Regions from separate parts of the Homo sapiens genome. Here region 2 is reported to be linked to region 1. The links are microRNA targets in miRTarBase. Many come from high-throughput screens and were not tested one by one. Region 1 holds a microRNA gene; the other region holds the end of a gene's coding sequence.
What was found. The annotated mature microRNA hsa-miR-8073 reads ACCUGGCAGCAGGGAGCGUCGU and lies in region 1 at 1,555-1,576, opposite strand. An mRNA with a match to its seed (bases 2 to 7 or 8) in the 3' UTR can be bound and repressed. Matches are read on the target gene's strand: a 7mer-m8 pairs with bases 2 to 8, a 7mer-A1 pairs with bases 2 to 7 and ends in A, and an 8mer does both.

Region 1 (3,300 bases):
GCAGGAAGTACCCAGCATCCATGGTCCATGTTCTTAACCTGCATTTTATCATCTTCCCCTAGTGGGGGAAGATGCTGGTGTATTTCCATCTCACGATACAGACCTGGGGAACAGCAGGTGTCAACACTGTTATTGTTCAAGGAGATTGCTCTTTATGGAGACACTTGCATGCTTTAGGATTTTCACTGAGTAAGCATGCATATAATGCTGACTCTATATGGCTTCCAGAATTCACCTTAAAAGGGTCTTACTTGATTTAATGTTAAGTTCTAGGTACCATCAATTTCTCTGAAGTAAGATTTCAAAAGGAAAAAATTTAGTAAGCTAATTCATCTCTAATAAGTCAAATTCTTAGCTTTCTTTATTCTATCTCTCTCTTTCTTTTAAAAAATTCAATGAGTAGCTGGCTTAGGCACAATTTAAATGGCTCATCTATGCCGAATCTTGTACCCGAGGTCAACCAATGAGCCAGGGTCACTTGGGATCCAGGCCAAGATCCCCATTCTCTGTTCGTCACTATGAGCCTAAGATAAAAATTCGTGAGTCCTGTCTAAGCAACAAGGCTTGTAGTCCTCCTATGTATCAAAAGTGCTCTTATCATATTACAAACAACTAACATGCTGAGATTATAAACATCCACAAACGCGGACTTCCTCCAGTATTCTATGTGATGTCATCTGGCCCTTCTTTCATATCCGCTTTTATTATGCTCCTGTCCTTTCAAAACAGACTGTGTGCCACAGTACAACAAAAGCCAGGAAACGTCGGCCCTCTGGCAGCGAGACAGAGCTGGAAACAAGGAGAAACTGATAAAGCAGAAACACCTCCAGATGGAGAAGTAAAGAATCAATCCTGACACAGCAACTCAGCCTGGCGTCTTTAAAGCCGGTATCCCCTTACGCACACCTAAGGAAGGCTCCTGCTCTGCTCCTCTCAAAGTGGAGTTGTTACTGAGTTGTTTTCATCAGTGCAGGTGGACATTCCCCAGAAAACGTCCTCTAGCAAACACTTCTGAGAGTCTGCTAAGTGCTAAGATCTAAAAGCCAATAGGCAGGCCCCTTGTCCTTGGGAGAAGACAAGCCAGTGGCAGAAATCAACAGCCCTGAACAGTAAATCCTTAACAACACCTAATCAGCCACAAACTATGTACACCCAACCTAAGGCTCGTGAGTGAGTCCCACAGCCACCCTTAGTCACTGCTCCATAGGGGCTGGACGGCCAGCAGCTGGGATTTCTGGCTATGGGTGGGAACATGACAGAAAGCAGGGAACACAGAGCTTTGTGCAGGGCGGTGTTGGTCTGACACTCTACTGGGGAGAAGCCCGTCGTCCCGATGACGCCACGCGCTTGGATGTGTTTTAAAATGGGGTTCTGATGCGAAGGCAGCGCTGGCCACCGACCTGCTCAGTGAACACCGGAAGTGGCGGGCGGGCTTCTTTCCCTTCTCTGTCGTGATTCAGTGCTTCCTGTCACCCCCAGCACACCCCTCCCCACCCCTGGGGAAGCCACTGCCAGGAACCAGCTCCCTGACATACCATAAACAGTCAAACACTGACGACGCTCCCTGCTGCCAGGTCACTGAAATCTTTTCCCTTAATAGACAATACTCCTCCTCCTGTTGGGAGCAATCCACAGACGCCGGAACACGAGTCAGAAAGGAACAGAGTCCTCTGAAGTCCCCAGAATCGCATGGCTGAAAACGCCCCGAGAGTACCCAAGGGTCACACTCACACATGCAGAGCCTGAAGCAAGCGAGAAGCTGGGGTTTGCTCTCGGGGAACTTAACAGCCAAGGACATAGAGTGAGCTCGAGACCCTAAAGACTCTCTGTCCCTGTGCAGTTCTTTGTGCTTCGTAATGTCTTCATGAGCTACAGGACTGCTCTCCTTTCTTCCGCAGCTGCCCCAAAAGACTGGATCTTTCTGCCCCTGGGCTAGGAGAAGTACCCTTCAGAAGATGCTGCCAAAGGAACTCCCCAAGGTGGGGAGGGGATGAACCTTAAACATTTTCTTTCTACACTTCCACTCTTCTCAAGTCTTCTCATCCTCTTCCTTTATCTCTTTTTGTTCTTTTACATCTTTAGAATGAAGTCTTTGGAAAGGTGGATTTGCTGTATTTGTAGTCAGCTTACATGAGGACCATGGCCATATCTGTGGCTAGAGTAAATTGTCCTTGGCTGGGCGCGGTGGCTCACGAGGTCAGGACGTCAACACCAGCCTGGCCAAGATGGTGAAACCGCATCTCTACTAAAAATACAAAAATTAGCCGGGTGTGGTGGCGTGCACCTATAATCTCAGCTACCAGGGAGGCTGAGGCAGGGAACTGCTTGAACCCAGGAGGCGGAGGCTGCAGTGAGCTGAGATCAGGCACTCCAACCTGGGCAACAGAACAAGACTACATCTGAAAAAAAAAATTGTCCTCTTAGACTGGACTCTGCAGGGGCACCAGGTGCCCATTGGGTGAGAGGTTCTCAGGCTCTGTGAACCAGGAGGCCCATTTATTATCCACTCTACCTGTCACCCACCCTCAAGGATTCAAGCCATTCTGGCAATGTCATAAACCGCCAGGATGAACCTTCTTCCTTCCAATCAGTGTAAACAGTGTTACTGTTCTATACTGGGTTAGTTACAGGATACATTATGAGTTTATACAGCTTCATGGAGTGCCATTGTTCCATTTCTGGAATGCTTCTGAAGTGCCACAGACTGTCATTATTTGGATGGTCCAGGTTAGCAACTCCTCGGCACCGAGCACCTCTATTTTGACTCCTTCTTTGATTTTTTCCTCCCACCAAGTTTACTGAGCATCTATTATGGTCCCAGGTATTGTGCTAAGACTGAGGATACCAGGTTCAAAGATCAGATTTCCAGAACTGGAAAAGATGAGCAAGATGATTAATTCTGGGAGATCCCAGTCTTTTATTAATGAAGACCTACTTTTGACTCTGTTTTTGTTTTTTTTCCCCTATATCTGAGGCTTGTAGAGAAAGGGGCTGTGCTGCTGGAGGCTGAGGCTGACATGCACTCCCTCTGGCTCAGTCCTCACAATTGGGTCGGAGGCAGTAAACTCGTTTGAGACTGACCGGCCAGGCTTCCAAGGTCAGGGAAGCCCCTGCTCCCACGACATTCTTCCCACGAAAACTGGGTGCTACAGAGATTTTAGGGAACTTCCCTAAGATGAAGCCCCAAATATGCAAGCACCAGTGATTCCCTCCATCCAGGAATCTCATCACGATGCTATTGTGATAACATGCTGCCCCTCCCACACCTACTGTCCATCAGAATTCAGTCCTCTTTTCTCT
Region 2 (3,300 bases), not on the chromosome of region 1:
GCTGGGCGCGGTGGCTCACGCCTGTAACCCCAGCACTTTGGGAGGCCGAGGTGGGCAGATCACAAGGTCAGGAGATCGAGACCAGCCTGGCCAGCATAGTGAAACCCCGTCTCTACTAAAAATACAAAAATTAGCCGGGTGTGGTGGCGGGTGCCTGTAATCCCAGCTCTTCAGGAGGCTGAGGTAGGAGAATCACTTGAACCTTGGCGGGGGGGTTGCAGTGAGCCAAGATCACGGCACTGCACTCCAGCCTGGGTAACAGAGCGAGAATCTGTCTCAAAAAAAAAAAAAAGAATTTCTTAGACAAAATTATAACAGTATAGGAAACAAATGTACTAGAAAGAAAATGTCTAAATCTGAATGCATCTGGTAATATTAATTCAGAAGTATAATTCTTTTTTTTGAGACGGAGTCTCGCTCTGTCACCCAGGCTGGAGTGCAGTGTCGCAATCTTGGCAAGCTCCGCCTCCCAGGTTCAAGCCATTCTCCTTCCTCAGCCTCCCGAGTAGCTGGGACTACAGGCACCTACCAGCACACCCCACTAATATTTTGTATTTTTAGTAGAGATGGGGTTTCACCGTGTTAGCCAGGATGGTCTCGATCTCTTGACCTCATGATCTGCCCGCCTTGGCCTCCCCAAAGTGCTGGGATTACAGGCGTGAGCCACTGTGCCTGGCCCAGAAGTATCATTTTTAAAGTCACCATGTTGATTTGGCAATTTTCAATATTTTAATACATTCTCCCAGTAAATAAAAAACAGAGATTGACATTTGTTAGTATACAACTTATTTGAAAAACTCAGTTAAATAGGCTATTTCTAAGAAACATTTTATCCATTTGTATAGAATCCAACTTCTTTAAAAACACAAACACAGTAAATAGATATTTCTCAGAAACAGAAACTTTTGTTTTAATAATACATAATCAAACATAATAACTGAACACATACTGAGAGATTGTATTCAGCTCTATGTGACAGGAAATTTCCAGAGTTTACCTGATAAGCCAGTATTGTCTTTCATTTTCTCATGAAAGGTAAGATTTATCTCACGAAGAATACTAGGTCACAGTAGATGCAGTAGGGAAACAATCCCCTGTGCTTTTTTAAAAAATTATTCTTTATTTATTTATTTTTGAGACAGAGTCTCGCTCTTTCGCCCAGGCTGGAGTACAGTGGCACGATTCCAGCTCACTGCAAGCTTCGCCTCCCAGGTTCACGCCATCCTCCTGCCTCAGCCTCCCGAGTAGCTGGGACTACAGGCGCCCGCCACCACACCTGGCTAATTTTTTGTATTTTTAGTAGAGACGGGGTTTCACCATGATAGCCAGGATGGTCTCGATTTCCTGACCTCGTGATCCGCCCACCTCAGCCTCCCAAAGTGCTGGGATTACAGGCGTGAGTCACCGCGCCCAGCCGCAATCCCCTGTGTTTTTATGGTTGTACCATTGTATCTGTCATGGAAGCAGGAACACAGAAGCACAAGAAATACTGAGACAATGAGGTATTAAGATAATGATAATATGGCCAGGCATAGTGGCTCACACCTGTAATCCCAGCACTTTGGGAGGCCAAGGCGGGCAGATTTCAGGAGTTTGAGACCACCCTGGCCAACATGGTGAAACCCCGTCTCTACTAAAAATACAAAAATTAGCTGGACATGGTGGTGCATGCCTATAGTCCCAGCTACTTGGGAGGCTGAGGCAGGAGAATCGCTTGAAACCGGGAGGCGGAAGTTGCAGTGAGCCGAGATCGTGCCGTTGCACTCCAGCTTGGGCAACATAACAGGACTCTGTCTCAAAAAAGAAAAAGAAAAAAAACCCAAAAAAACCTATTTTCCAATTCCAACCCAGAAGCCAGGTCAAAGAGCAAACAGCAACAGATGAAAAAAATAGTTCCCACGAGACTACACTCCTCCAAGAATTTGCATGCATACGTATTTCTACCAACTACCTATTAGTCCACAAGCAAAATGAAGAAGGATTCTCTGACCAATAGCATAAAGCCACTGAATTACTTGCCTGTATAAGTAGAAAGTATTAACATTAAAAATAGTTTTTCCCTGTAAAATGGAAAGGTGGAATAAAAGTAACATGGTAGTAATATCCAGCTTGGAACACACAGGGCCAGTCAGAAAATGTCAACAAACACCCATATTTCATTGGTCTAATGGCCTCACACGGAGTAACAAAAAAAATATATAAAAATTAAAGTTAATGCATATTAAAATACATCAGATCACCCATGGGTGCAATACACTTCTAAATGAAAAGAGAAACATTAGTAATTTATAAGAAAAAACCATTATGTATCAAAATTTCAGTACTATAGGTGAGAGAGGACTTACAGGATTCTCCCCTCAACTTTACCTGCAAGAGAACTGCAAATTCATTTGCTAGAGGCCCACTTTTAGGATGTGGTCCTGATAAAGGCAATACCATATTTATAAACGTCATGAGATTCTTCTCCTGCCATGAATTTTCTTTTTTTGGAGATGGAGTCTCGCTCTGTCACCCAGGCTGGAGTGCAGTGGTGCCATCTCGGCTCACTGCAAGCTCCGCCTCCCGGGTTCACGCCGTTCTCCTGCCTCAGCCTCCTGAGCAGCTGGGACTACAGGTGCCCGCCACCACGCCCGGCTAATTTTTTGTATTTTTTTTTTTTTTAGTAGAGACGGGGTTTCACCATAGCCAGGATGGTCTTGATCTCCTGACCTCGTGATCCGCCTGCCTCGGCCTCCCAAAGTGCTGGGATTACAGGCGTGAGCCACTGCGCCCGGCCCTCCTGCTGTGAATTTTCTGAACCATGTATGTGAATTAATTTGCACAGGTTTTCCCCCATTACTTAGATGTACAGGATTTCTTTCCTGTGTGACTTCTCACATGACCTTGAAAGGCTTTGGGACAACTGAAAGCTTTCCCACATTTTTCGCATTTACTGGGCTTCTGTCCAATCTGCGTTCTTACATTTTTGGAAGAGCAAAGCCCGCCTGAAGGTTTTCCCACACTGGCTGCATTTACAGGTTTCTCCCCAGTGTGCTTTCTCTCATGTTTGTGTAAAGATGAGGACCAACCATACGTTTTCCCACACGTTTCACATTTATAGACTTTCTCTCTAGTTTGTGATTTGACATCTGTGGAGGGGCGAGGCCTCGCGGAAGACTTTCCCACGCTGCCCCCACTCACAGGTTTCTTTTTAGCATGCGTTCTCGCGTGTTTGTGTAAGGATGAGGGCCAACCGAATGCTTTCCCGCATTTTCCACACTTATAGGGTTTCTCCCCGTTGTGAATTCTCACGTGTCGTTG

Region 2: miRTarBase lists ZNF556 as a target of hsa-miR-8073. The part of its 3' UTR that is shown has no 7-base or 8-base seed match.

Annotation. Positions count from the first base shown.
Region 1 is chr13:110,339,244-110,342,543 of GRCh38, reverse strand. MIR8073 (microRNA 8073) reads right to left here and starts at 1,586; the gene lies at 1,515-1,586. The region is part of intron 3 of COL4A2 (collagen type IV alpha 2 chain); the gene reads right to left. RefSeq lists an enhancer at 1-341 and a silencer at 1,413-1,482.
Region 2 is chr19:2,877,865-2,881,164 of GRCh38, reverse strand. ZNF556 (zinc finger protein 556) reads right to left here. Exons shown (of 4, transcript NM_024967.3): 4 at 1-3,300. The coding sequence ends at 2,836. Among named protein-coding and RNA genes, the nearest start is that of ZNF556, 12 kb to the right of the region's middle.